Regions from separate parts of the Homo sapiens genome. Here region 2 is linked to region 1. Evidence: fine-mapped expression QTL. Tissue or cell type: cerebellum. Region 1 holds a variant in brackets; the other region holds the start of a gene. All regions are shown on one strand. Distances are from middle to middle.

The links. PIP is the estimated chance that this variant, and not a neighbour inherited with it, causes the effect.
Region 2: ST7 starts here. The variant in region 1 is fine-mapped to the expression of ST7 in cerebellum (GTEx, PIP above 0.99). The same link has a PIP of 0.9 or more in cerebellar hemisphere.

The regions. Positions count from the first base shown.
Region 1 is chr7:117,078,620-117,089,579 of GRCh38, forward strand. All of the region lies in intron 1 of ST7 (suppression of tumorigenicity 7), which reads left to right. It also overlaps a transcript of ST7-AS2 not described here. Among named protein-coding and RNA genes, the nearest start is that of ST7-AS2, 61 kb to the right of the region's middle. The variant G/A (reference allele first, on the strand shown) is at 5,223.
Region 2 is chr7:116,949,357-116,958,550 of GRCh38, forward strand. ST7 (suppression of tumorigenicity 7) reads left to right here and starts at 4,145. Exons shown (of 16, transcript NM_001369598.1): 1 at 4,145-4,335. The coding sequence starts at 4,185. It overlaps ST7-AS1 (ST7 antisense RNA 1), which reads right to left and starts at 4,978. Exons shown (of 1, transcript NR_002330.1): 1 at 3,090-4,978. ST7-OT4 (ST7 overlapping transcript 4) reads left to right here and starts at 4,492. Exons shown (of 5, transcript NR_002329.2): 1 at 4,492-4,753; 2 at 5,105-5,323; 3 at 5,618-5,797; 4 at 7,067-7,367. RefSeq lists a cis regulatory region at 702-1,027, enhancers at 3,691-3,800, 4,216-5,139 and silencers at 4,061-4,130, 4,341-4,540, 4,601-4,900, 6,498-6,757.

The sequences.
Region 1 (10,960 bases):
TGGTAGCAAGATAGATGCTTTGCATCAGGGTCATTTCTACTATTATAAAGCTTGAAAAAGGATAGAACAAGAAGAGTCATGGTTGTATGGATGTTGTTATGGGTTTGAATTAGCATATGTAGGACATTCCAGTACAATTAATAACCACTCAGTTAATTGGTTGGGGTGAATTCTCTTTTAGTGTTTCATTTACCTTATAATTAGCTGTAACTCAGCAATTAAGTCATGACACCAGCCCACTGTGACACTGAAGGTTGGAGGATAGTGCTTGGGTGCATTCTGCTCATATTAAGTCAGAGTTGTTGGTTTCCTAAGTGCCTCTCATTCTCTTTTAGGTTCTTCAATAAATCTATGTGTTATTCATATGTAGTCACAAATGCACTGAAACAAATGCCGTCTGCCCCAAGAATCTGCAGATTCCACATCTGCAGATTCATTCAGTCAATGGCATATTGAAAATAATATTCTGAAAAAAATGCATGGTTGCGTCTGTACTAAACATGGATAGCATTTGTTTTTTACTCATTACTCCCTAAACAATAGAGTAAAACAATAGAGTAAATGCTATTTATGTAGCATTTATATTGTATTAGGTATTATGAGTAATCTAGATATGGTTTAAAGTATACAGGAGGATGTGCATAAGTTATAAGCAAATACTATGACATTTTATGTAACAGACTTGAGCATCCTCTGCTTTTGGGGTCCACAGGGTGAGGGGATTCCTAGAACCAGTCCTCCATGGGTATTGAGGGACAACTATAATTTCATACAGGATTTTGTGATTGTAGCAAACTGTAAAAATTGTTTCATGTTCATGTACTATCTTTCTAAAACTAGAATTCAGGTTACATATACACATATAAATACTTTTTCTCATTGGTTCTTTTAGAAAAACTTTTTAAGACAGGAGGATTTTCTTCTTGATGTTGTTGCTGCTATTATTCTGTCAACTTATTCTTAAATAACTTGTTTTAACTGAAATAAAACTGAAATATTTTTTGAAAATTCCCCTAAATTCCTGCTTTAGAAAATAGCCTGTATTGTTTGTTTTTAAAGCTATATATGCTTTTATTTGTTACCAAAATAAAACAAGTGTGTTTAAAAATATTTAAGACTAGAGAAAATGGAAAAAGTGTGTAAAATAAAAGTTCCATGTAATTCTATCCTCCAAAGACAACTACTTAATGGATTCTAGTTTTATGTCATGCTTAAGAAACCTTTTCTTCCACTGATTAAAATACACCACTAGTACATAGAGTAGAAAATTTCAAGTCTGTAGTGAAGAAAAAAAATCACTTACAGTTCTACCATTTGGAGTTGAGCACTATTGGAATGTTTGTCATTCCTTTTTTTTTTTTTTTTTTTTTTTTTTTTTTGAGACGGAGTCTCGCTCTGTCGCCCAGGCTGGAGTGCAGTGGCGGGATCTCGGCTCACCGCAAGCTCCGCCTCCCGGGTTCACGCCATTCTCCTGCCTCAGCCTCCCAAGTAGCTGGGACTACAGGCGCCCGCCACTACGCCCGGCTAATTTTTTGTATTTTTAGTAGAGACGGGGTTTCACCGTTTTAGCCAGGATGGTCTCGATCTCCTGACCTCGTGATCCGCTTGTCATTCCATTTTTCAGTGATACATGTTACAGAAACTGTCCTTATGTTTGTGTACCTATACAGATAGCTAACGTATCATCTATACACTTTAAACAAAAGATGTCAAACTACACACACTTATATAATTTGCTTTCTAAACTAAAATGGAGTGATCATTTTCCTGTCATTTATAACTTGATTTTTAATGGCTGCATACTATTCTATCATATAGATATTTAATATTTAACCATTTTTCTTGTTGTATATTTAGTTTTTAGGTTTTTTTGCTTTTGCAAATAATATATTTATAGATATATTTTTGCTGAATATCCTTGAAGATAAATATTTTTACATGCCTATTATTATCTCCTTAGGCTAAATTCCCACGTGTGTAGTGATTTTTAAAGAACAACAAAAATATGCTCAATTCACATGTATGAACTTATGGGATTGATGAGTGGATGAGAAAGAACCCATCAGATTTTCAGAATGACTTCAGCAAGTAAATTTGAAGATTCCAAATTTCAGGCTTTTAATTTAAATAGATAATCTAGCTTTAAACATTCTGCATTTAGGTACTTAAATATTTTGGTTGAATATATATTAATAATCACCATATTTGTGCAGAGGAAGCCTATTGTGCATATTTTAATACCAACCTTATTTATGCCATTGAGTTTTCTATCCATTGATTTTTTGGAACTGTGTATATCACACCAAAATCCAAATCCAAAGTGAAAAAGATAGTCAAACACAGGTGTTGTGGGATACACAAAAACAAGCAAAACTAGATTTTCTTGGAGAAAAAGGGTATGATGACTTCCCAGGATGCTTTAAATTTCTTTCTTGTTTTTAGCTGACCTCACTCTAGGAAGAGAAAATAAATTATATTAGTTATTTTATTTCCAAATAAAAGCAAAAATTATAACTTGAAAATATAAAAGGGTATTACCTCAAATGTTGATTAAAACAATAGTTATATGACTAGAATAAAATTTGGACTTTAACATGTAGAAACTGTAATAGCTACTGTTTAGTGTGCTCATAGTAGGTACCTAACATGGCCCTAAGAACTTCTTCTCATTCTTATTAATCTTTATTAAGGCCAGGATAATAATATATGCATGGCAGGTCTGAATGCTTCAATTTTAAATGCTTCTCAAATTATTCATCTTTTTGATGTTTTAGATCCAGGAAACCTTTGGATGCCTCCCCACAATTTATTAAATTTTTTCAATGTGTTAATCATTTCCTTTATTATTTTTATAGAAATTATTTTAAGTGTGATTTGGCACGACCTGTAGCAGAAATTTTAATCATTTCATTCATCTTTTTACTATCATAGTTTATCTGAGACATAATGATTTTTATGACTTCAATGACACCTGAAATGAAACCAGTACTCTAAAGTAGTTTTTGTTTAACATGATTTGATTCTTTTAGAATTTATGTTTTGCCAGAGTGAATGAGGAATTCAGATATAATAGTGACTGTACAGTAATGAGTTTCATTTCTAGCTAGCTATTTTTATCCAAGGAATTGGTATTCTCTAAAATGACAATTGTAAAAGATGACTAAAATTATTTTTGAAACATTTTTAGACTTGATATACCAGGGTTCCACTAGAGAAACAGAATCAGTAGGCTACACACACATACACTGAGACAGACAGAGAGAAATAGAGATTGAGAGAGAGAGAGAGAGAGAGGCAATGAGTTGGGTTCCAGGATTTTGGGGGCTGGCTAGGCAAGTCTGAAATGGGTAGGGTGGGCCATTAATCAGGAAGGGCAGGCTGGAACTCTTGTGTCTAAGCTGAAGCGGCTGTCTGCAGGTCAGATTTCTTTATCAGAGAAGCCTCAGCTCTGCTGTTAAGGCCTTTGAATGGATTGAACCAGGCCCACCCAGATTATCTAGGATAATCTTTACTTAAAGTCAATGGATTGTGTATTTTAATCACATCTACAAAATACCTTCACAGCAATACTTAGTGTTTGGTTTAATAGCTAGGGGCAGTAGTCTACCCAAGTTGACACACAAAATCTCACCATCACACTTGATATCTGAACCAGTTCAATGCTCATATAGAAACACCCACTTCATTAATAGGTAGTTATAATTTATCCATGATAAAAACCAGAAATACCCAATTTGACTACTTAATGCTGGTACTAGTTTGGGCTATACACAGTTTGCATGTTACAAAAAGTAAATCTACCCTTGAAATAATAATATTTACCAGAGTTGAGAATATTGAAAAGAAGGTATGCTAGGCTATATTTAGGATTTTTATAAAGTTTCGAGGAATGGCAGCATCATTGGGATACTGATCGACTTCCCAAATGATGTAACTGGACAAACGGTCATTTAAACCTGTGCTTCTTAAGCGGGGCTCATAACTCCCCTGAAATATATTCTTATTTTCTTCTGCCATTAGAAGGACTTTAGTAGAAAATACCAGAGAAGCATTGCTTTTATTTAAGGTAAACCAGGGGTCAGCAAACCCTTTTCTGTAAAGAGCCAGACAGTAAATATTTTCAGCTTTGCAGGCTGTACAGTTTGTTACACTATTTAACTCAGCTGTTGTAGCATGAAAGCAGTCATAGACATTACATAAACTAACAAGCACGGCTGTGTTTATAAAATGTATTTACTAACACAGGCAGTGGGCTGGATTTTGCCTGCAGACTGCATTTTCCTATCCCTGATGTAGACAGGTCTGGTGTGTTGGTTAAATAGTCGCTCTGTTTGTAATACCATACATATCTAGTGACAGGATGTATTTCAGCACAGTTTAGGAATTGGTCAACTATTGAACACCTTCCATTTTTCTGCTATTTTATTTTATTTTATATTTTTATTTTATTTTATGTTGAGACGGAGTTTTGCTCTTGTTGCTCAGGCTGGAGTGCAATGGCACGATCTTGGCTCACTGCAGTCTCTACCTCCCAGTTTCAAGCGATTCTCTTGCTTCAGCTTCCAGAGTAGCTAGGATTACAGGCACCCACAACCACACCTGGCTAATTTGTAATATACATACATATATATATTTTTGTTTGTTTGTTTGTTTTTTGAGATGGAGTTTTGCTCTTGACGTCATCCAGGCTGGAGTGCAGTGGCACAATCTTGGCTCACTGCAACCTCCGCCTCTCTGGTGATTCTCCTGCCTCAACCTCCCGAGTAGTTGGGATTACAGGAGCCTGCCACCATGCCCAGCTAATTTTTTTGTATTTTTAGTAGGGATGGGGTTTCACCATGTTGGCCAGGCTGGTCTCAAAACTCCTGACATCTGGTAATCTGCCCACCTCAGCCTCCTAAACTGCTGGGATTACAGCCATGAGCCACCGTGCCTGGCCACATTTCTCTGCTATTTTAATAAGAACATAGAATAGAATAAGTATAGGAATGGGGTAGTGTTCAATCTATTAGGGGATTAAAGCTATTATATATAAAATTATTAGCACACAATATAGAGTTATGATATATATTTTATATGATTATATAGCATGACTTATTAAATATATGTAATGAAGCATATTCTCTTAATTCTCAAGAAAGAAAAAAAGTAAGCATTCATGTTTGTTTTGTGGCTCAGCACAGAAGCTAGGCCAGGTGCAGAGATTTCCTTGTGAGCATATG[G/A]AGGCAGCACTAAGGCAAGCTGGTGGCTGCCAACTTCCTGGCTTTGGTTCCGCCTCCCATCTCCTCCTTATTAACAAACGACAATAATCAAAGAAAAAGGAAGCTGAAACATTATTTGAGCATGTATGTAGAGGACATAGGCATTTGGTAGAATATCATAGACATCCAAATACTTGAGTCTGAGATTCTAAATTCAGTAGCAAAAATGCTACTTTTTACTCTAACACTATGTAGTCAATCATAGTTCAGGCACAGGCTAAGAAACCAGCAGATTTTCCAATTCCTAGAAAAATGACCTAGGGAATAGCACTTACCATCTTTAGGTATTAGTTTCTTCATCTGTTTTAGTCATGCCTTGTGTTAGTGATCTTTAAGCTGGAGCAGATCAATTCCCATGTGTTAGAAAGATGACTCAGGTGGCAGTGTAGAGTTTGGGTTAGATTGGGTGCTGAGAGATGGCATCTAGGAGACAGGTTGGGGGGATATGATCATCCAGGTAAGAAAAAGGAAGATTGGACCACTGAGGGCAACACAGATGGAAAGAAATCCAACTGGAAATACCTGTGAACACATGCTTGGGTACAAGCTTTATGTGAACCCAGGGTGAGTAATGCTGTGGGATCCTTCCAGTGTAAGAAGCCCTTAGAACAATGGTTAGGAACTCAGGCTTCAGCACCAGTTGTACCTGAATTCATATCCTGGGTCTGCCACTGTCTATCTGCGTGACTTTGGACAAGTGACTTAAGTGATTTAATCTTCACTTTCTTATCTCTAGATACAGACAGGATAATAACACAAAGTTGTGAAAATTTACTAAGACACCATGTAAAGCATTTAGCCCATTGCTGGTTGTTTTATGAAGATTCTATGAGTGTTTGCTGCCATTATTATTATTCATTATTATTATTTGTGGGAGGAAGTAAAGTTCAAGTACCAATAATAATTTTCAACCATTACAAATTGTGATTATATAAAAGTTTTAAAAATTTCTCAGGAACCAGGGAGCATTCTATTTTTCATTCTAATTTGAGAATAAAATTATATTTTATGTTTTTACTTTTCTCAAAAGCGGTAGGAGCAAATCAGTTTTAGGTTGTCATTTTTTCTGTTTCCAGGTTTTTAGAACAGTAGATACCTGTTCTCTGTAATTTGGTATGTCTATCTGTGTAATGCTTAAGTCAGTCCTGGCGCTTGTTCCTAAGAAAAGGAAAATAAGAGGCAAATACATATTGATTCTGTACAAGAAAAAGAATAAAGGAAGGGAGAAAAACACCAAACGTCACTAGTGCTCTGTGACAGAAGAGAAAAAGGTTGTGTTTCATAATACACTGAGGTAGACTTTATATTAAAAACATACTCTCCCCAATACTCTGCAAGTTGGATTTTTTTGAATATTTCTTTTCATCAGCTAGGTTCTTATTTTATTTTATTTTCTCTGCAGCTGTTGGTCTGTCTCATGTTACATTCCCATCATTTATGTATCTGGTTTTGCCTGTGATGAAGCTGAGAAATGTCTCATTTTAATGGTTTCTGTGTTTTGTGTCTGTCTGTTTTCCAGTTTTGGGGAGACATTTAAACCAGTAGTCATGTCATCTCATGTAATGACATGCCTCTCTGCTTATTCTCCCTTCTGTTACCAAACAATATTTATGGCTAGCGTCTGTATGCATGTGTGCGATGACTATTTGCTATACAGTTGCCTAGAGCACTGTGAAACTCCACATGTTCAATGGAGTGATTTCTTTTTGTTTTTCTGCATGCTATCAAGTACTCTCAAAGTGTTCCTTCGGCTTTTTGCATGAAAGATAGCTAGAGGATAGAAAGGGACATTCCAGTAAATTCTACTTTGTAGCAAATTGAATATAGAGGTTTTTCTTCCAGTAATGTTTTCCTCCCGATTTTTATGTAGAAAGTGTTTTGTTAAAATTCTGGAAATGAAACTCAGAAAGGAAATTAAAAGAAAAGGGAAGAATTGCATCAATTATGACAGATAAGAGATTAACGTACTTACTAAGAGCTTTTATAAATTAGTGCCATTCCAATAGAAAAAAAGGCAACACGAACTAGTAATTAAATTAAATTTAAAAAATTAATTAAAGCATTAAAAACTAGAGAAAATAGACATAGAATTTTAAGCCTAGCTAGTAATCAAATAACCAAACTTCCCTCCTCTCCCCTCCCCTCTCTTCCCTTCTTCTCCCTCCCCCTTGTTTTCTTTTCCTTTCTTTTTTCTTTTCTTTCTTGAGCAGGGGCAGGGAGGAATGGTTTCTTTCTTTTTTTTGTTTTATTTTCTGTATTTTAAAAAATGTTTTGGGAAAACAACTTTGAAAAGCAAAAGCAATCTCCATCCATTTTGGGGATACACATTTGTTTGTTTCTATAGTAACATGATGGTTGGCCTTCCAGTGGTAATACTCATTTGTAATACAACTGGGCCAGAGGTACCTTCTGAGTTCATGGCACAGGATTTCTTAGAGTGAGGTTGACTGACTCATTCAAACCTAGGACTGTAGCTTCATTAACCTTGAGTTTTAACCAATTACTGATCCACCTCAAGAAACATTGTCTGCATTCTAAGGATCTAGGCGTTAGACAATTGCTAATTAAAAACATGAAATTTCTTTCTTTTTCCTTCTGCATTACAGATGAATAGATTATTCACCATGAGGGATGACCATTTTGGACACTATTTGAGATAATAAGAATAGATGTTTAAGAGGGGAAAATGCCATTTACATGGGCTAGGAGCATTTTTATTAGGGATGAATTTAGCTTGAGATTTGTTTGGTAACAAAAAGCACCTGGAATTTAGATGCATCTTTTAATAGATTTTTTTTTTAAACTGGCTTGCCAATATTTGAAAATATCAGTGCTCCAGTTTCCACCGACTGTTACCCGTAGACATTACGTAAAGCCAGATGCATTTGTGATTTAACCGGAGTTCACAGCCCAGGACCTGAGGAGATAATTTTAGGTACTTTCTGGAAAAATAACTGGTCCTTAGGTACAAATGCAAAGCCAAACGTAGTTATTGGAATTGAAAATAATAAAGCCAAGGGCTTATTTTGGACAACCATGCAGCTGGAGCAGCTGAATACTAAAATAGTGGCCTGTGTGGTGGTTTCCCCTGTGGCTTCTTATCTCCGTGGGTTACACACCCTCACCCAGGGGAAGACAGCCTTCTTAATGCAGCTTGCAGCAGGCCTTCTTTTGCGGGGCAGATTTTCCTCAGAAGAGAAGTACATTAGTCATTGAACTGTTAGAGAATATAATGAAAAGAAAAACCTAACTTTGGATCAGATTTGAATTTTACTACCCCATGGCCTGTAGCTGCTTCTCTGACTCAATATATTATCTTCCTTTAAGGCAAACTATTTAGTTTTCAGTTAGTAGAGGGTTTCAAAACAAAGCAAGTAGATTAATAAAAAGTGTAAAAATCAGAATAAATAGAATAGAAAATAGATTTATTTTTATTTTGTCATGTAATCTCGGCTGATAAAACAGGAATATACATATGTGTGTAGTGGTCAGTTTCAAAATCATGCCAGTTAAAGTTCTCTGTGTTTTAATTTTTCTTAAAGGCATATATAAAAAAGAATCTCAGAGAAAGGAGACACATTCATAATGATTAACCATACATACATCTTTAAAAGTTTGGTGTAAGAATGAACCAGTATTATACTTCATAGAAGGGCTGATTGTTCTTGCAGCAGAAAAAAGATATGAGTTTTATTCATAATTTACTTACTAACTCATTCAATGCCATTTATCTTTAACTTAAGTCACACTTAATGATAAATGCTCTCCTCTTTACTGCCAGACTGCCTGTAGAAGTAGCTGAGCTGGCTGCCTTAATTTCCTTACTATTCACTGTCTTTAATCACTTCAAATTTGACTTTGGCCCCACTTCACCAACATGCCCAGACTCTCGCCCTTTATGTCACATTGGGAAAGCCACATCCTGTTGAATTTAACTCTGCAACATCTGATATGCTCAACTCCCCTCTCTGGTGGTATTATAGGCGCTCCCCTCTGAAATAATTCCCGCAGCTGCACATTTTACACACTCTACCCCATTGCTACCAGATGTGTCTGTCTTTGTCACATCTCTGGTTATGAATGGTATCTTCTTTCTGCCTGCTATATGAAGTCCACTTTTCTTGGCTTGGCATTTGAGCCAGCATTCTCTCCCACTGCTTCTCATCCGCCCTGTTTTCCAATCCAATTCCTTTATGTATGCTGTGATATCTACCTAGAGTCCATACTCTCTCTTCTTTCCTCTCTAATCTCATGTTCAAAGCTTATCCTTCTTTCCAAGCCCAGAAGGAAGGACATCCCATTCATTAACCTTCTCTAACCCTCCTAGCTGGAAGTAATGTTTACTTCCTCTAGATTTTATCTGTACTTCTCTTCTGAGATGTTTCATATTCTGTGTTATTTGTGTAGCCATCTCATTTTCCTGTCTCAAGGGTAGGATCAGTCTCATTATCATGTTATTTTCTGCCCCCAGTGTCTAGTTCAGTGTATGATACTTTTTATAAGCTAAATATATTTTAGATATTAATAAATGTAGAGCATATATGAAAGATGTTTTAGAATATAGATGTTATTCCGTTATACTTGTTAATATTCTTCTTACATTTCTTAGTTATTTCCATGCATTTTAGATTTAACAATTATCTGTTCAAACAGTTGATTATTGTGAGTATTTTGAACCCTTTTATTAGGTTCCAGCACATTAAGTAACGAATTGCCGTATTCAGCTTTGTAGCATGTAATCTTCCAAATCTTACTATTAAAGTTTCTGTAATATTTTTTGGTATAACTTCCAGTATAGGAAGAGTAAATGAGAAGCTAGTGAACAAATTCCCCTTAAGATAATGGAAAAGTCCTAGCACATTTTGCATGGCTGATGCTGTGAAGAGCCCTTTGGAGTACTCCAGTATGAAGACAAGAACAAATGGGAGTGTCCTTTTATACCACTCACTCCAGCCACCCCATAAGAGCATGTAATAGCTCTCTACAGTGACACTGCACCTTGCAAGAACTGAGCAATCCAAACATTTCAATTCCCCAGAGCACCAAGCACTAAGTAAGAAAAAAAGGCCAGTGCGTATAGTACATACAGATAAGCATAAAATAATTACCAAGGGAAGGCCTTACCTTTGGCCCTCAAACACAGCTGTTATTTTACGTAGTTCCAGTGCACATCTTTTAGGGCTGTACTTAGCACCCTTCTCAAGGAAACATTCCTTTATGCACACTCTGTCACTCACTCCATCCAGCCCATGGCTGAGTTAAGAGTACTAGCTCTATATTTCCAGCAACACCAGAATTATAATTGCCTGCCAATTTGTCTCCATGTCTGCTTCTCCCACAAAACCTAGAGCTCCTTGAGGATAAGAACTATGTATATATCATATATCTTTGTATCACCAGTGTTTTACATAGTACCTGGCCACACGTTGAATATGAATATCTATTGAATGGCCAAAGCTGGTCATGCGCCTTTGAAATCACAACAGATTTTTAAGTAGCACATTGAGGAGAAAAGGCAGTTTGAAGCAGGTACACAACAAATAATAATAGTTAATATCTGATAGTGTGTCAGGTGACAAAAATAACATGAAGAAGACTTAAAACAAAACAAAACAAAAAAAAACCTGTGCGGGATTACTTACTTTTGGAGGCAATAACCTAGAGCACTTCAACAGTTTGTTTTTTGTTTTTTTGTTTTT
Region 2 (9,194 bases), 130 kb before region 1:
TCTAGATTCCATCCTTTAGTTAGACACTGGGATAAAAGTAGGAGTGCAGTAGGGGTGGGGCCTTAAATAATTTTATGCAAGGAACGAGTTATCGGATTTGTGCTTTAAAAGGTAACTGGTAGAGAAGTGTGGAAAGTGGATGGAAGGAGGCAGTGGTGGTGCTTGCCGTGGTGCAAATAGAGGCAGGGAGCCCACTGCCTTGTTCTCTATGAATGATGATCAGGCTATCACCAAAGGCTGAGAGAAGTGGCGGCCTGAGTCTTGATGTACAGTGGAATATAGAGAGGAAAGGAGGTACATGATGCTCAGATTTCTGAATTAGGGAACTGGAAGGATGGTGCCCATTCCTTGATGGAACTCTAAAAGGAACAGATGAGGGTGAAGAGGTAATGCATTCCATTCTGCATGTGATGAGCTTGGTGATTGTGTGCCATTCCACTGGGTGATTATCAAGAGGTAGTTAGGCATATCTGGGGTGTCATTATTTCATTAACGGTCCCACTCAAGAGCCCCCCCCTTATCCGTGCTCTGCCTGTTTTTTTTTGTGTGTGTGTGTGAGGCAGAATCTCACTGCTACACCCAGGCTGGAGTGCAATGGTGCAATATCGGCTCACTGCAACCTCCACCTCCTAGGTTCAAGCAGTTCTCCTACCCCAGCCTCCCGAGTAGCTGGGACTACAGGTGCGTGCCACCATGCCCGGCTGATTTTTGTATTTTTAGTAGAGACAGGGTTTCACCATATTGGCCAGGCTGGTCTCAAACTCCTGACCTCAAGTGATCTGCCTGCCTCAGCCTCCCAAGGAGTGCTGGGATTACAGGCGTGAGTCACTGCGCCAGGCCTGCCCTGCCTGTCTTATCAGTCACCAAGGCCTGTCACTTCTGCCTCCCCTCCCTTCCTTCCTCCCTTCCTTCTCTCCTTCCTTCACTCCTTCCTTCCCTTTATTTTTCTCTCTCTGCCTCTTTCTTCCCTTCTTCCCCTTCTCCCCGCCTCCCTCCCTCCTTCCCTTCCCCCTCTCCCTCTTTCTTTCTTTCTTCCTTCCTTTTCTCTTTCTTCTTTCTTTCTCTCCCTTTCTTTCTTTCTTTCCCCTTCCTTTCTCTCCCCTTCCCCTTTTTCTCTTCCTCCTTCTTTCCTTTCTTTTTCTTCTTTCTCTCTCTCCTTCCTTCTTTCTTCTTTCTTCCTTTCTTTTCTTTCTCTATCTTTCCTTTCTCTCGCTCCCCTTCCCTTCCCCTTTTCCTTCCTTCCTTCCTTCCTTCCTTCCTTCCTTCCTTCCTTCCTCCCTCCTCCCTCCTCCCTCCCTCCCTTCCTTCCTCTCTCTTTCTCTCTTTCTTTCGACAAGGTCTCACCCTGGAGTGACTGGCACAATAACAGCTCACTAAAGCCTCAAACTCTCAGGCTCCAGTGATCCTCCAACCTCAGCCTCCTGAGTAGCTGGTAGTACAGGCACACACCACCACACCCAGCTAATTTTTAAAATCTTTTTGTACAGACAAGGTCTCCTTGTGTTGCCTGTGCTGTTCTCAAACTCCTAGACTCAAGTGATTCTCCCACCTCGGCCTCCCAAAGTTTTGGGATTACAGGCGTGAGCCATCTACTTCCTTAATATTTCTTAAATCTCCACTTAAATAAATCTCTGAGTTGGTCATTTGGATTGGTGTGTGCAATGCCCCATAACTATGAACACCTTAGCGTTTCTAGTAGGCCCTTCAAAATGACTCAGGCCTGTATCTTTAGCTTTGTCTGTATCCACACCACTCTGCAGAGGCTGCACTCCAGCTATACTGAAGCAGCCACAGTTTGCAAGAGATTATGCTTACTCACTTCTGTTTTGAAGTGTTTTGAAGCACAAAGGCATGTGTACAGTCCCCACCACATGCCAGGATGCACACCAGGAGAGGCAATGATATAGGGCTGACTTCCCAGGAGCGCCTAGTAGAAAATTAGAAGATTGTGACTTAGCGGAGTCATATTCATGTCCATTCATTGAAGTTCATTGACAGCAAAAAGCCAGGCCTCCGGATGTTCATTTAAATTAAGTAGTCAATATCCTAATTCAGTGACTCGCAGAGAATCTGGTGGGTTATTTAATCATCACATAAAATAGGTGGTTCATGTACTCATGTTGAGGCAGGAGACTAGGTTCTGGAGGCAGGGAAACTAAGGACTTCCTTGAACTACATTGAAAGGAAAACCCTAACTTTCCACGCCTAAGTAACAAAAGGACCAGAGGCTACCTTTGACCTTTTCTGCCTAGTAGATGGGAAATTGGCTGTCTGTAACCAATCAGACTGACTGCGGGTCCAATCTTCATTTGCAACTTTGTAACTTCACTCCAGCCTCTGAATGGTTGTTGTCCACAACTAATCAGACTGTGGGCGAGTCTTCGTTTGCATAGAAGCATAACTTCATTAAGTACATCCCAGCCTCTGATTGGTTGTTTTTTGCAACCAATCAGATGTTTGCACAGGAGTGTTACCTTTGTATCTTCATTTCAGCCTCTGGTTGGCTGCTTTCTGCAACCAGTCAGACTGATTGCGGGCTACCACTTCATTTACGTGAGATGAGCATGAGTTGCCAAAGGGAAACTTCTTGGGGGTATTTGGACCCAAGAAGATTCTGTATTCGGCCTTTGAGCCGCTGCTCCGCCCGCTCCCACAATGTAGAGTGTACTTTCGTTTTCAATAAATCCCTGCTTTCGTTCTTTTGTCGCTTCTCTGGGTGTTTTGTCCAATTCTTTGTTCAAAACGCCAAGAACCTGGACAACCTGCAGTCACGATCCTTTACTGGTGACAATATTGTTTTATTTTACTGAGATTCCATGTATCAGTGTTAGACACAAAAATCATTTGGTCATGTGCTGCCATAAATAACTATAAAGAAAGTCTATGTGTGCCAATTTCACTTATTCTGGCCTGGATCTCACTGTAGTAGATCAAATGTGAGGAAGAAACAGTAGCCGAGAGAGGCTGGAATTAGTAAAAATTTAAGAGTAGTTCCATCCATTATGTATGCCGTAATAGGCCCTATATGTGAAAAGTTAAAGGAGCTTATTTAATTATGAAGGAAACTATTATACAAGTAAGCAAAACAATTTATAATAAAATATTCTTTATGCTCAGAATTTTAAAAATAGATGTAGACTGGAAAACCTGCAATTTCCTCATTACCATCTAATACATAGAAAGTCAAATCACTTACGGACAGAAACAGACTTGAAAATTTCAGCTGAGAAAACATTTTAGAATAAAAGAAACATTTTATTCAGCACAGTCAAAACAAAACAAAAACAACAAAACAATGTTTAAAATGGACTTTCTGTTAGAGGTGGCCGTTTCACAGTCAAAATTATCCCAGAGAATTGTTTATATTAAAAACAGGCTGAGAATAGTTTGACCTCTGATCACCAAAAAACCTGGAGGATAAACATTCATCTGTCAAGATTTCTCTGGAAAATCCCTGCGCTGCTTCAAAGAGACAGAACAAAGGTAAATAGCATCTGCCACCCAAATCTTGCTGAATAGAGTGATTTATCTTCAGGCCTACTAGCCGGCGACAGGAGCGCACCTCCTCCCTTCTCCTAGCTGTCCCGGGTTTATTCATTCCCTGAGCCTGAATCCTGATAAGGGAGCAGAGTAGGGTTTAAGACCTCGGACCCCAGAATACACCACTGCAATTGAATTTTGGTTCCACCTTAAGGTAAACTACGCAGCTGCTGTGAGCCTCAGTTTCCCTACCTATAGAAAGAGGATCGTAGTGGGGAATTGTTGCAGGGGTTAAATGAGATTGTACGGATCGTGGAGCAGCGCCTGGCGTGTGGTAAACGCTCAACTTATGCGGGTTGTAACTGCCTGAGGCGTTTCCTTCGGCGCGCCACTTGGCCTTCTCTTTCTAAATATTAGCATAATAAATATAAATGGACCCAGAACGCGAGGGGGCAGGGGCCACGTGATCGCTCCACGAAAGCCACTTGTAGGGACCTTTAGAGAGTTAGCAATAAGGCTGGAGAAGGAAAAGCCGGCGCGCCCGCGGCCCGCGCGATTTCCCGCCGAGCCCGCGTCCCCGGCGGCGGGCGGGCTCCGGGGGCGCCCGGGCCGCGGCGGCGGCGGCGGCGCGAGCTGCGCCTCCGGGCCGGTGAATCATCCCGGCAGACACCAAGAGCCGCGGCAGCAGAGAGGAGCGCTGAAACATGGCTGAAGCGGCCACGGGCTTTCTGGAGCAGCTCAAGTCCTGCATAGTTTGGTCTTGGACGTATCTGTGGACCGTGTGGTTCTTCATCGTGCTATTCCTGGTCTACATCCTGCGGGTGCCTTTGAAAATCAACGACAACTTGAGCACAGGTAAGGCCTGGGAGCCGGGCCCGCGGCGCCCACCCCTCCCCCGCCCCGGAAAGTTAGTGCAACTCGCGCGGGGCCGCGGCCAGGCGCGCGCTCGGGGACGCGCCGGGGCCCGCGCACCGGAGGCCCGCGGCTACCCGCCAGCAACGCGGCGGCTTAGGCGGCGGGGCCGGGCAGCTGGGCGCGCGGGGGCGGCCGGTGGCCTTCACGGCCCCGCGGAGGAAGAGCTGCGCCGCGCACAGCCCGCAAGGCGGGCCGGGCCGGGCCGGCAGCCGCCCTGCTGCGTCGCTGGTGGTCGGGAGACGGAGAAGAACGGGTGTCGCGGGCGAAGGAGTTCCCAGGACACCCCCTCGGGTGTCTGCGCCGGAACTCCGAGGGTTCCCCGGAGTTAGACCGAGTCCTTCCTCACGCCCTCCCGGCTGTGGGTGCCAAGCGGCCGAAGTGTGGTCGGGGAGGCGCCCTCCCGCCCGGCCGCGGAGGCCCGAGGGCGGCTGCCGGAGGGTGCTCGGCGGCGAAGCCCCCTGACCCGGCCGGGCTGTCCGGGCGGCGCCCTCCGTGGCCCGGAGTTGCGTCTTGCCGGGCGTGGGGCTGTCTCTCTGGTTGGGTAGTGGGGAGAGGGGTTCCCGAAGGCACTCTTGGGAGTGTATGGATGACGTGTCAGGTCACCAAATGGATTGTCGAAGGGACCGGAGGGAAGAGGGGAGAGCTGGAATTTCTGAGGGTTTCGGTTGCAGTTTTCAGTGATCTTTGCTCGTCTCCCTTCCCTGTAAAGCTACATATGCTCAGCAAGTGCCGCGTGCCTCCCATCCTTGGTCGGTGGTAAATGCAGGAGGTAATTAACAGGATCTTCACAAACTTGGAGCCAGCCCACTGAGTCGTTAAAAAAACACCCGCAAAGAAAACACACGAGCCTTAACACTCCAGAGAGTTCCGAAACACAAAGTAAATTTCGAGCTAAGGGTTACAGTCCTTTAAATCTGGAAATTTCAAGGTAGAGTGTTTTTGTTTTTGTTTTAAATTTTAATTTCACAGTACTGGGAAATTCTTACAGTCCTGAAGATATATACATATGTACACATATATATCTTCCCTTGTTAATCTCCATACTCTGGGAGTGCAAGTCTGGAAATGCATTTTCCTCAGGTGTTTAGCTGCATTAAAACGCTTTTTAAAACGCTTGAGATAATGTACTCATTTTGTTAGGAAACTTGTACCTTTCAGATACTAACTTAAGTATTTTGATTACTAACTTGAACTCATGTTCATATTTACATTTGTTTTGTAGTATCCCTCGGGATCGTGTCCCTGGGAGGCGGATAGGATTCAGCACTCTAGAATTGTCTCACCATTTGAATAGGTGCTGCTCAGCCCTTTTGAGTCTGTCATCGGAAAGACCATGGCTTTCTCGCTTTTCATCTTTTTGGATGGCTGCTTGTCGCAATATTGTCTTCTTCGCTTTAGACAAGTATGTCTCCAGGATACCTTCTGGTCTCAAAGTTCTATACCTTTAAGAAGTTGTTTGAATATATGTTTTAATGGAATTACGTATTTGTTGGTAACAGTGTTAGTCTGTTTTGTGCTGCTGTAACAGAATACCACAGATTGGGTAATTTTTAAAGAACACATTTTATTTCTTGTAGTTCAGGAGTCAGGGAAGTCTTGAGATCAAGGGACTGGCATGTGGGGAGGTCCTTCTTGCTGTCATCCCTTGGTGGAAGGTGGAAGGGTAAGAGAACATGAGAAAACAAGAGGGGGCCCACTTTCACTTTTATAACAAACCTACTCCCTCAATAACAAAATTAATTCATTCTTGAAGGCAGAGCCTTCATGACCTAATTACCACTCACAGGTCCCACCTTTCAACACTTTTGCACTTGGGATTTTCAAACACACTAGTTTTTAAAATATTAATGTTTCTCCTTATTACACACTTAAAATTTTATTTCATGATATACATTTGTATATCACATTTTCATCAGGTTAAATAATTACCCATGTATATATGTGTAAGTGTCACATCCAGTGCTCTGTGCAGATCAGGCAAGAAGCAAAATATCTACTGGGAAAATGTGTACTTCTTAAGGAAGGGCATTGTTAGGTCTTCTAGCAATTTAAATCTAGCATTTCTCAGAGATGCCTTTGTTAATTTGTGTAGGGGCAGTTCTAAGAGATAGCGAAAATATGAAGATGAACGTGCCATCCGGGCTGTACCTTGCTAGACACATGATAGAAGACCTGATGATGCTGGACTTTTCAGTTTGGTTTCATGCTCATTTCAGTCATAAAGAAAGATAAAAGGGGAAGCACACAGAGAGCACTCACCTCTCTGCTGTTTTTATGAGAGGGTAGCAGGATCTGGGGTGGGAGGAGGACTTTGGCATTAATTTTGAGACATGAAATTATAGCCACAAACCACCCTAGAACAGTTTAGGTTTTTCAAAAAACAGTTGCAGACATTAGAGGCCTATTTTCTTCCCTTTTAAGTAACAGTGAGAAGTTATAGTAGGAAAACTGCCAAAAGGTTGTTGTCAACTTAATTCCCTCCTTTCCTTGCCAATTCCCCTCCCCTTTGGGAAAAAGTTTCTGTACTGAAGTTATTGGCAAGGAAGGCCCAGGGAGAAAGAAGTCATTAGCCAGCACCCCTGAGAGGGGAGGCAGGAGCTAGCCTGGTCTAACTTGTCCTTGCAGGGAGGTCTAAAAGAGTTCTAACGGGACTAACTTTGCTGTTCTTCAGCCCTGTGGTGCTTACTCTTCCTGTGATGAAGGCAAGTGTGTTCCTGGAGAGGTTACTGAATCTGGAGCTGCTTTTAGGGAGTTGCAGATGGCGCAGGCCTCCCTTCCTCCTCAAGGAAGCCAAAGACACCATCACAATCAGGCAGCCAGGAGCCAGGGCTTCCATAGGCCCAGCTCTGTACCTGTAGGGGGATGGAATCTGCTAAAAGTGTTCTGGAGTCATTCTTGGATATCTGCTTGGTATCTTCTCAATATCTTGACCATCTGTGACAATTTTAATCCTCATTTGATCATATTTTATGGTAAATGAGCTTAACTCGATTTTTTTTTAATTTAGATGCCTCCTAATGTACTATAACAGGTGCTATGATAAGAAAGATGAATGAGTTTGTAAAACCCAGGGTAAATAAGGAGTTTACTACAAGAATACAACTTCCCATATGCAAGATGGGGCTGGGCAAGGCTGTGAGAGCTTCTCTTGAATTGAGCCTAAGAGGATGAGGAGAATTCCATGATTGAGGACTCAGAGGTGGACCTCCCAAACAAAGGGACAAAGTTGTGAAAGTGCAGGTCAGATTCAGAGAAGAGCTAATCGTGGAATTTAATTTAAAATAATAAAAGAAAAGGACTTTGATGAACAACCATACCGTTTTTAGCTCTTACATCGTGTAGTTTTCCAAGTAAAAATGCTTTGAATGCTGTTTTTGAGGTATACTACTTCCCTACTCCCACCAGCTTGGCTCGTGTGACCTTCGTTGCATTGAGCCAGTGCCATTTAGGGTAGGGATATAGTTCAAAGAATTCCACAGTATTCTCTTAGACCATACAGAGAAACCTTAACATTGGCAATCACATCTTGTAATGAAAATGAATTTTAAAAAAGAAAGGGGAGAAAACGAACATAATAGGAATAGTACATAGTGGCTAGCTTTGATAATAGTTTTTTTTTTTGTTTGTTTTTTAAGAGAGTCTTAGTATGTTACCTAGGTTGGGCTTGAACTCCTGGGCTTAAGGGATCCTCCCACCTCAGCCTCCCTAGTAGCGAGTACTACAGGTGTGTGCCACCATGCCCAGCTGCTGGTAACTGATTTTTGAGGCTCTGCTCTTGATTTGGATACAATAGTGTTAAAATAGTTTTATGATTTACTGAAAATAGAATGAAATTTTAACAAGGTTTTTAAAAGACCCCAAATAATATTACTTGTCAGTTTTCAAGTGAATTAATATCATAAAGCAATACTTTTCCAAAGGGCAGAAAATTAATTGTAGATTGGCACAGTCATGCAGGATATTATTAAAATAGGTGAGTCTTAAAAAATAGTACCATAACTTATACAGTGGTGTTGATGGCACTTTCTCATCTACCCTATGTTATAAAGTTTTTTGCTGCTGAATTTAAACACCTTTTCCTAAAACGGGCAACTTTGCTGTTTTTGCAAAAAGCAGCATAAGTGATTTTCCAATTCTTTTTCTATTTGCTGAAAAGCAAGTTTTCAAAGATCTTTGAAATCCGTTTTCATTCCTTTTGGAAAACAAATGTAATAGCCTGATCTAGGCTTAAAGTTATTTATTTACTTATGTTTGAGACAAGGTTTCACTCTGTCACCCAGGCTGGAGTGCAGTGGTGCAGTCACAGCTCACTGCAGCCTCAACCTGCAGGCTCAAGCAATCCTCCTGTCTCAGCCTGCCACCTCAGTCTTAGTAGCTGAGACTACAGGTGCACACCACAGTGCGTGGCTAATTTTTTTTTTTTTTTTTTTTTTTTGTAGAGACAGGGTCCCCTGTGTTCTTGAACTCCTGGGCTCAAGCAGTCCTACTGCCTCCACCTCCCAAAGTGCTGGGATTCCAGGTGTGAGCCACCGTGCCTGGTCAAGTTATTTAGAAGACTTTTTTTTGTGTTAATTAAGCTCATGAATACAGATGTAAAACTCTTATATTGTTGACGTGATATAGAACTTAGGCTGCAGCTCAGTTTTGGCATTTTTTCATGTTGAGAATTTTTGCTCTAAATTTACTTAACATTTAGATTTTAATTTACTTAAAATTTACATAAAATTGGATTTCCCTTCTAGAGGGTCTGGTTGCAGTTTACATAGGTCTTTTGCCCCTGTTGTGCCTGTTGTCTAAAA